3 separate regions of the Homo sapiens genome follow, and regions 1 and 2 are each linked to region 3. The links come from fine-mapping of genetic effects on gene expression. A gene starts in region 3. Each other region holds a variant in brackets. All regions are shown on one strand. Distances are from middle to middle. Region 1 overlaps ARHGEF4 (Rho guanine nucleotide exchange factor 4). Region 2 overlaps ARHGEF4 (Rho guanine nucleotide exchange factor 4). Region 3 holds the start of ARHGEF4 (Rho guanine nucleotide exchange factor 4).

The links. PIP is the estimated chance that this variant, and not a neighbour inherited with it, causes the effect.
Region 1: its variant is fine-mapped to the expression of ARHGEF4 in whole blood (INTERVAL, PIP above 0.99).
Region 2: its variant is fine-mapped to the expression of ARHGEF4 in lung (TOPMed, PIP 0.92).

What each region holds. Positions count from the first base shown.
Region 1 is chr2:130,949,098-130,951,849 of GRCh38, reverse strand. The region is part of intron 4 of ARHGEF4 (Rho guanine nucleotide exchange factor 4); the gene reads right to left. Among named protein-coding and RNA genes, the nearest start is that of SMIM39, 85 kb to the left of the region's middle. RefSeq lists a silencer at 2,142-2,469. The variant T/GGT (reference allele first, on the strand shown) is at 1,164.
Region 2 is chr2:131,036,391-131,039,142 of GRCh38, reverse strand. It overlaps ARHGEF4 (Rho guanine nucleotide exchange factor 4), which reads right to left. Exons shown (of 14, transcript NM_001367493.1): 6 at 111-290. Among named protein-coding and RNA genes, the nearest start is that of SMIM39, 2.7 kb to the right of the region's middle. The variant GC/C (reference allele first, on the strand shown) is at 1,282.
Region 3 is chr2:130,835,674-130,838,425 of GRCh38, reverse strand. It overlaps ARHGEF4 (Rho guanine nucleotide exchange factor 4), which reads right to left and starts at 1,512. Exons shown (of 14, transcript NM_001367493.1): 1 at 1,434-1,512. The coding sequence starts at 1,472. It overlaps ARHGEF4-AS1 (ARHGEF4 antisense RNA 1), which reads left to right and starts at 1,432. Exons shown (of 2, transcript NR_186036.1): 1 at 1,432-2,116.

The DNA.
Region 1 (2,752 bases), 110 kb before region 3:
AATCATACCACACAAAAAGGGGGAAGGGAATAGAGCTATAAAGGAGTAATAGTTCTATATATTACTGGAATTAAGCTAGTATAAATCTGAAGTTGATGCTGGTAAGTTATATATATATACATGAAACGCTAAAGCTACCATTAAAAACAAATCTCAAAAAATACAGTGAAAGAATCATTAATAAAATTAAAATACTACATTAGAAAATATTCACTCAGTGAAAAAGAAAACAGTAAAGAAGGAATAGAACAATAAAAAGATGAGACAGGGAAAACAAGAAGTGAAGACATGCCATGAACTGTGCCCATAGAAGATGGCAAATTTAATCAATAAATGTTGTGTGTTCCAACTGCTCCACCGACCATCCATTCCTCTGTCTCTCTCCCTCTCCTTGGGCTTCCCTATTCATGAGACACAATATGGAAATTAGGCCAATTAATAACCCAGTAATGGCCTTTAAGTTTTCAAGTGAAAGGAAGAGTCACATATCTCTAACTTTAAATCAAAAGCTAGAAATGATTCAGCTTAGTAAGGAAGGCATGTCAAAGCCAAGATGGCCCAGAAGCTAGGCCTCTCAAGCCAAACAGCCAAGTTCTGAAAGTGAAGGAGCAGTTCTTGTAGGAAATGAAAAGTGCTACTCCAGTTAGCACATGAATAAGAAAGTGAAACAGCCTGATTGCAATAGGAAGAAAGTTTTAGTGGTCTAGATAGAAGATCAAATCAGCCACAACACTCCTTTAAGCTAAGGCCTAATCCAGAGCAAGGCCTTAACTTTTTCCAATTGTATGAAGGCTGAGAGAAGTGAGGAAGCTGTAAAAGAAAAGTCTAAACCTAGCAGAGGTTGGTTCCTGAGATTTAAGGACAGAAGCCATCTCCCTAGCACTGAAGTGCAAGGTAGTAGAAGTAATCCAATTGCTCATCAGTGGATGAATAAATAAGCAAACTGTGGTGTATCCATACAATGGAATATTATTTGGCCAAAGAAAGAAATGAAGTACTGAAGTACATGTGACATGTGGAAGAACCTTGAAAACATTATTATAAGTGAGAGAAGCCAGTCACAAAACCAGTTCCTACATGATTCCATCCATAGGCAAATCCAGGGTAGGGAATTTACAGAGACAGGAAGTAGATAAGTGGTTCCTTCGGGTGGTGGTGGGGGG[T/GGT]AATAGCTAAAGGTACAGAGCTTCTTATGAGGTGCTGACAATGTTCTAAAATGGACTGGTGATGACCGCACGTATCTGTGAATATCCTGCCACCGAACTGTATATGACTATAGCTCAACAAAGCTGTTTAAAAAATAGAAAGCATCCTTTACTAGTAACTAGAGACTGATGAAGGGTGTTAGCCACAAGATACAACAAAGTGGTTTGAAGAAAGAGGTGACCTACAGCTTGTGAAATAACCATACTACCAGGTAGTCCTGGTAAAACCCAGCCAACCCTTCCAAAGCCACAGGCACGAACTCTGGAGGCATCAGGGACTCTCAGAGATGTACCTGGCCCTGCCAGCTCCACTGAGAGAGGGGCGGGTGTGGTGGGGGTTTATCTTGGACACCGATTTGCCAGGGAGAGGTGGCCTGCTCCCACATCAGGCTGATTCTTGGCCACCCTTCCAAACGTGGAGAAGAAATTCTAGTGAGGGGGAGGAGCTCCCTGCCAGGACTACTGACAGCTCCCCACAAGCCTCTAGGCGCTGACTCATGGCATTCATCACAAGAAAGCCTTGCCTTCCTCATCCTCCTTCAGCTGTGTTTGAAGGATGTTAACAGGAACCCATAACAATCTCTGAAAGAACGTCACTTCCAGTGCTACTTAACAACACACCACTGCTGGGGGAAGACTGCTGTCCTCACAGACGAGCAAATAAAGAAATTTCACCTATTAATAAAAAGCCTCAAAAGAGGCCATGTGTGGTGGCTCACGCCTGTAATTCCAGCACTTTGGGAAACTGAGGCAAACAGATCACCTGAGGTCAGGAGTTCGAGACCAGCCTGGCCAACATGGCAAAACCCTGTCTCTACTAAAAATACAACAATTAGCTGGGCATGGTGGTGGGGACCTGTAACCCCAGCTACTTGGGGGCTGAGGCAGGAGAATTGCTTGAACCCAGGAAGTGGAGGCTGCAGTGAGCCGAGATCGATCGCACCACTGCACTGCAGCCTGGGCGACAGAGCGAGACCCCATCGAAAAACAAACAGGCCGGGCATGGTGGCTCATGCCTGTAATCCCAGCACTTTGGGAGGCCAAGACAGGCGGATCACGAGGTCAGGAGATCGAGACCACCCTGGCTATCACAGTGAAACCCTGTCTCTACTAAAAAATAGAAAAAATTAGCCAGGCGTGGTGGCGGGCCCCTGTAGTCCCAGCTACTTGGGAGGCTGAGGCAGGAGAATGGCGTGAACCCAGGAGGTGGAGTTTGCAGTGAGCCGAGATCGCACCACTGCACTCCAGCTTGGGTGACAGAGCGAGACTCCGTCTCAAAAAATAAATAAATAAATAAAATAAAGTAAATAAAAAACAAACAAACAAACAGAAAACCTCGAAAGAAGAGCAGATGAATTTGGAAATGAACTGAAATTTGGAAATAACAAGAAAATTTTACAAAAATCCCAATTTTCTGTTCTTAATGGCTTCAAAAGGACATTGGAAAGATTGTTGCAGATTAAAAACATGATCACTGCATCACAAACTGCCAGTGAAGGCAGTGAACACAGGTGAGAAAAAAACAAAACAAAACAGGAAAACAAAGCAGA
Region 2 (2,752 bases), 200 kb before region 3:
CAGTGCTCTGCACCTAGGATGCCAGAGCTGTTTTGGGCTTGGATTTCTCTGCAGAACCAGGTAGCTTTTTATGGGCCCAACTTGGGAGAAGCTGGGGCTTGGAACCATACCCGAACGAAGCTGGCTGGAAACCAGCCCTCGCCATCGGCGACCCGGCCCCACCACCACTCTCTGTTGGTGGCATCCATCACTTCGATGACGTCCCCAGCTTTGAAGCCCAGCTCCTGGTCGTCCATGGTGACATGGTCCCAGAGTGCTTCAGCGCAGACCACACTGCCATCGCTGATGAGCTGCCGAGAGAGCCACGGGCAGGCGGGTCAGTGGGGGAGGCTGCCTGGGCCTCCCTGCTCTCTGTCTCCACTCCCTCAGCAGCCCTGGGAAGAGGGGATCCTGACTTCTTTACAGAGGAGCTGACAAGGCTGCCTCTGACAGGAGCAGGGCTTTCCTGGGGCAGGGGCTATGTTCTGGGCATGTCTAGATTATCAAGGCTCAGTGATGGAGCCGGAAGTGAACTGACCACAGAATCTGATCCTGTCACTGGGACTGCCAACTGCTCCCTGTTAGCATTCCCAATCCAGAATTCCTGGGGGCTGCAAGGCTGCAGGAGGGAGGGGCTGGGCACTGCAAGGCTGCAGGAGGGAGGGGCTGAGGGCTGCAAGGCTGCAGGAGGGAGAGGCTGGGCTGCAAGGCTGCAGGAGGGAGAGGCTGGGCGCTGCAAGGCTGCAGGAGGGAGAGGCTGAGGGCTGCAAGGCTGCAGGAGGGAGAGGCTGGGCTGCAAGGCTGCAGGAGGGAGGGCCTGGGGGCTGCAAGGCTGCAGGAGGGAGGGGCTGGGCGCTGCAAGGCTGCAGGAAGGAGAGGCTGAGGGCTGCAAGGCTGCAGGAGGGAGAGGCTGGGCTGCAAGGCTGCAGGAGGGAGGGGCTGGGGGCTGGTGCCCTCCTGTGGGCTTCTTGTGGATGAGCATTGCCTGTAAGGTCAGCCACCAACCACAATGCCCCTTCATCCAGGTAGACAGTGCCCTGCCATTGGAGTGATTGGAGCTTGTTTACTGTGTGTTTTTCAACACTTGCAGAACCAACCTCATGGCACCCCTGCTCCCATCCCAAGCCCCAGAGATGCCAGCACCAGCTGAGCAATGCCCCTTCTTAGAGCTCTAGGTCCCAAGCCCTGTGATCCTAAGTTTGAGTTAGTCCAACCTCTTCTCTTCATTTCCCAAGTTCTAGGAGAAGCAGAAACGTTTTGCAGCTGCTACCTCTGTGACAGGCACTTCAGGACTGCTCTTAT[GC/C]AGTGTTACCCAGTCAACCACATTATACCTAGCCGACCATTCTTCACATGCTTCTCTCTGCTCAAATAACCAGCAGAGTGCCTTGCTCCAGAGTGGTGTGGACTAAGACACTGGACGCTCCCCTGCCTCTCCCAGGCAGCCCTTGTACGCCATGGGGCTGACCCCTGCTTTCTCCTAACATGGGATCTGTTTCTGCTCCCTGAATGATGAGCAGTTCTAGGGCCTTAGGGCAGGAGAGGAGGAGTGGGCTGGGGCTGCACAGGAGGTGAGGTCCACGACCCTCCCTGCTAGGACCAGGTGTTGGCACTGGCTGTCACAGCTGTGGGGGCGGTCAAGGATGGGAATGTCACAAACAGGCCCTCCTCTGAGCTCCCATCCCAGGAGCCCTCCTTTCACTTCACTGGGTACTCCCTAAGCACTGTGTGAATCCTCACCTCAACATGGAAACCAAGAGTGGGGCCAGTCCTGTGTTCCAGCTAAGAGGCCTCTGCCTGAATGGGCAGGGTGAGGGCTGGGGCTGGCCACTGGAGCACTGAAGCTCCAGAGCCTGCTTGGGATGGTGCTTTCCTCCAGGGGTCCTGAGCAAGCAAGTTCAGGGAAGGACAAACCTTCTCTTTCCTGGGGGTAAAACCTGCTCCAGTCCTGATGGACGCTCTCCTCAGAGTGACACATGAGCCTGTGAGCCCAGGAACCCTCACAGCGCGGCAGCCACGCGGGGGCTGCAGACCTCCAGAGGCCTCCACGGGGTCCCAGGCACAGAGCCCTGGGTTATTCCTGGGGGCAGCAGGCTTCCACAGGGGGCCACTGCTCTCATTCCCAGCCACAAAGACCTTCTGCAGGTGGCCTCCAGATCATGAGCTGCTGCTGCCACTCAGATGAGATGAGACAGGAGGGCTCAGGCGACCATATGGTAGGAGCCCACCAGCCACAGTGGGGAGCTGGCTCACCCCGCTGAGGCCCTGAAGAATGAGGCTCCAGGGAAAGAAGGAAGCAGACATGGCGGTCTGGGGACACCAGTGAGAGCGTGAGCTGTAGGTGACATGGCCCTGACCTGGGGTCTGTGACACAGGCTGTCAGGAGGTGACCCGACACACTCAACATGGCTCATTTTCCCACTGCTTCCCTTCTCAGGAGGTTCCTGCCTGATATTAACCAGGTGAGGTGTCACCCTCTGTCTCTAGGTTCCCTTAAATGAGCCCTGAGCAGAAGCCTGGTGCCCCCATTCCCCTTTCCTTTATGCTGCCTGTCCCTGCAGGTGGGACTGGGTCCGGCATAGGTGGCCCCCCACATAGCTGCCAGGGAAGGTCACCAGGTGTCGGGCAAGAGGAGGGCTTCACAGAGAGGCCAGCTTCCAGGCACCATTAGGGACAAGCCCCACACTTGTCCTGCCCAGTCAGCTGGAAGACCTTGGGGAGGAGGGGAGGAGGTGTTAATTGCCTTTGTCGCACCCTGGCAGAGGGACACGTGCCG
Region 3 (2,752 bases):
ACATGTTGGCCAGGCTGGTCTCGAACTCGTGACCTCAGGCGATCCGCCCCCCCCACTCGGCCTCCCAAAGTGCTGAGATTACAGGCATGAGCCACCGCGCCGGGCCACACTCACATTTTCTAATAAGACCTTCACACTAACCCTGAAAGGTGTGGAGGGCATGGAAACATCACCCACATTTTTCAAAACAAAGACCCAGGTGGTTATGTGATTGTCCCAAGATTGTACACCTCCTCAATGACAGAGTCGGCATTTGAAGGGGGTCTGAGCTCTTCCAAGCCATCTCCTACACTCACCAGCACAGGTTCCTGAAAGGCTGCCTTCCCGGCTGTCCGGCCCTCTCCACTCTTGATGCCAGCGATCACTTCGTTATCGCTGGGGGTGGGAGCTGATGCCAGGCCAGCGGATAGGCTGAGGGCAGGGCTCCTGCAGGTCTGCCCTGGGTCACCTGGCTTCCTGCCCCTTTCACTAGAGCTCTCAGGGCCACAGAACTCCGACCTCAACCTCCCGTCTTCAACTCCGGGAGAAGATGGCTGCACAGCCAAGTAGGGCGCCCTCCCGCCCTCCCGCCCCGACAGCCCCACACAGGTCTGCCTCCCCCTGGACCTGCAGCTGACAGCTGGTGGCTCTTCCCCGCCTCTCCTTTCATGCAGTTGCTCCCGGAGTAGGAGCCCATCGGAGCTCAGCACCACCCAGCGTCGCAACCGCCCTCCCGCTGGCTCACCTGGGGAGGTCGGGCTTGGCAACCTGTGGCCGGCCACCCCTGACAGTGCCCCGGAGCCCCCGGCCCATCTTGGGGTTCCTGTGGGGGCAGCGAGGTGGAGGCGTCCCAACTGAGTGGGTCCCGGATGGTGAGCGGGCCCGGAAATCGGGCCAGAGAGGGGGCACCCCGAGCAGGAGCCCAACAGCCCCGACCCCAGTTCCAGCCCCTTGCCGCTGCTGCGCCCTCGCGTACTCTCAGCCTGGGGAATAACAACAGCAACCACTTCTCCCGTACCCACCGGGCCGGCACCAGCCCTCCTTCCCAAAACAGCTGGTACTGCGCCAAGCGGCAGAGGCTCCGAGTGCCCTGCGCGCCCAGGCCGGTCCAGGCAGCGGCTCCGAGTGCCCCGCGCGCCCAGGACGGTCCAGGTGCGGGGAGGCCGGCTCAGGCGCTCGCCCTTGCCCTCTCAGGGGCTCGCCCCGGGCCGCCGTCCCTACCGCCCCCAACGGAGCCCCGTCCTTCCCCGCGCTCGAGACGGCCCCACTTTGCAGGACGCCGCCTCCGGTCTGCACGTCGGAAAGTTGGGAGCGGCGGGGAGCCACGAGGGTGTCCCCACCCACCGGGTGCCCAGGGGACGGCCCGGGGCGCAGCAGCCAGCGCGGGCTGTGCTCCTCCCCACCCGCGCAGGGCGCCGGGAGCCCGACCGCAAGTCCCGGACGCCGGCTCTCACCTTGAAGAAGCTCCGGAGGAAGTGCACGACGCTGAGCATGGTGGCCGCCGGGACGCCCGGAGCCCGGCCGCAGCACTACGAGCCGCGCCGCCGAGCCGGCTCCACCGACGCCACCCCGCGCCCCGCCCTAGGGTCCGCCCCCGCGCCCTCGCCCGGACGCTCCGCCCCCGCAAACCTGGCCACTGGAGGCACGTGAGGTCCAGGCTCCTGCCCTGCCCGCCCCTGGGCTTTGGTCACCCGCGGGACTGGGCACGCACAGGCACACAGCAGAGCCGTCCACAGACCCGGCCCAGGGGCCGCCGGGATCATCCCGCCCAGTCGAGCTCTTGGGCCCCCTTGAAGCCTAGGAGTGTTTTCTCAGAGAGAAAGCAGCACGCTTCTTGCGCATTTGCACATCTCCAACGCAGCGCTTCGGCCTGTCCTCCGCACTGGAGACTCAGGTGCCTCCGCCCTCCTGAGAGCAGGGGCGGCCTCTCTGCTGAGAGTTCTGATTGTCAAGCTCCCAGAACTTTCAGAGTTCAGTCCGCCCAGCGTTCTTGTTTACCAGTTGAGGAAACGGAGGCCCAGGGAGGCTGTGCAGCGCGCCGGCACTCACACACCTGGTGGGGACAAATGTGGACTAGGATATCTGGGACCGAAGTCTTGGCCTCCAGCTCCCTCTTGCCTCCCACTTACCTTTCCAGGTATGTCCTGCAGATAGGATGTAAGTGAATGGTCACACCCGTAACCATTAAGGAGCGCAGCTTTCTGCTAAGGGGCAAAGGGAAGTCCTCGCTGCTTTCTTTGCAGGGGTTTAAGGAGACAGGGCCTGCCAGGAAACACTCTAACCAGCCCTAGGACCGCACTATTTTAAATCAGAAGAAAAAAACTGAGTATAATAAAATAATAATGAATCTAGCCTGGAGTATATTCATCTTTATATGAATGCAGTTGTAAACTCTAATTTTAACTATTTTATTTTATGCAGGAAGAGGCCCACGAAAGCTAAGACCCCAAGGCCCATGTGCACCATACTGCAGCCCTGCTCTGTCCACCATTTCTGAGATCGGCGCCCCACAGAGGGAGAGCATCTGCCCAGACTGGCTTTTTGCACCCCTGCTCAAGCCTGCACCCTCGTCCAAGTCCTAGCCCCACTGAACGCTATGCCTGGTCAGCAGTGCGTGTCAGGGGTGCCTGGCAGAGTGTGCATTTTCCGTACACCCAACCTGTCTCTGCCTCTCCCCAGGCCCTCACAGCAACCAGGCCAGGCGAGAAGCTTGGGAGATAGATACTCAGAGGAGGCACTGTGGGGCCATCTGAAGATCCTGCGTCCCCTGTCA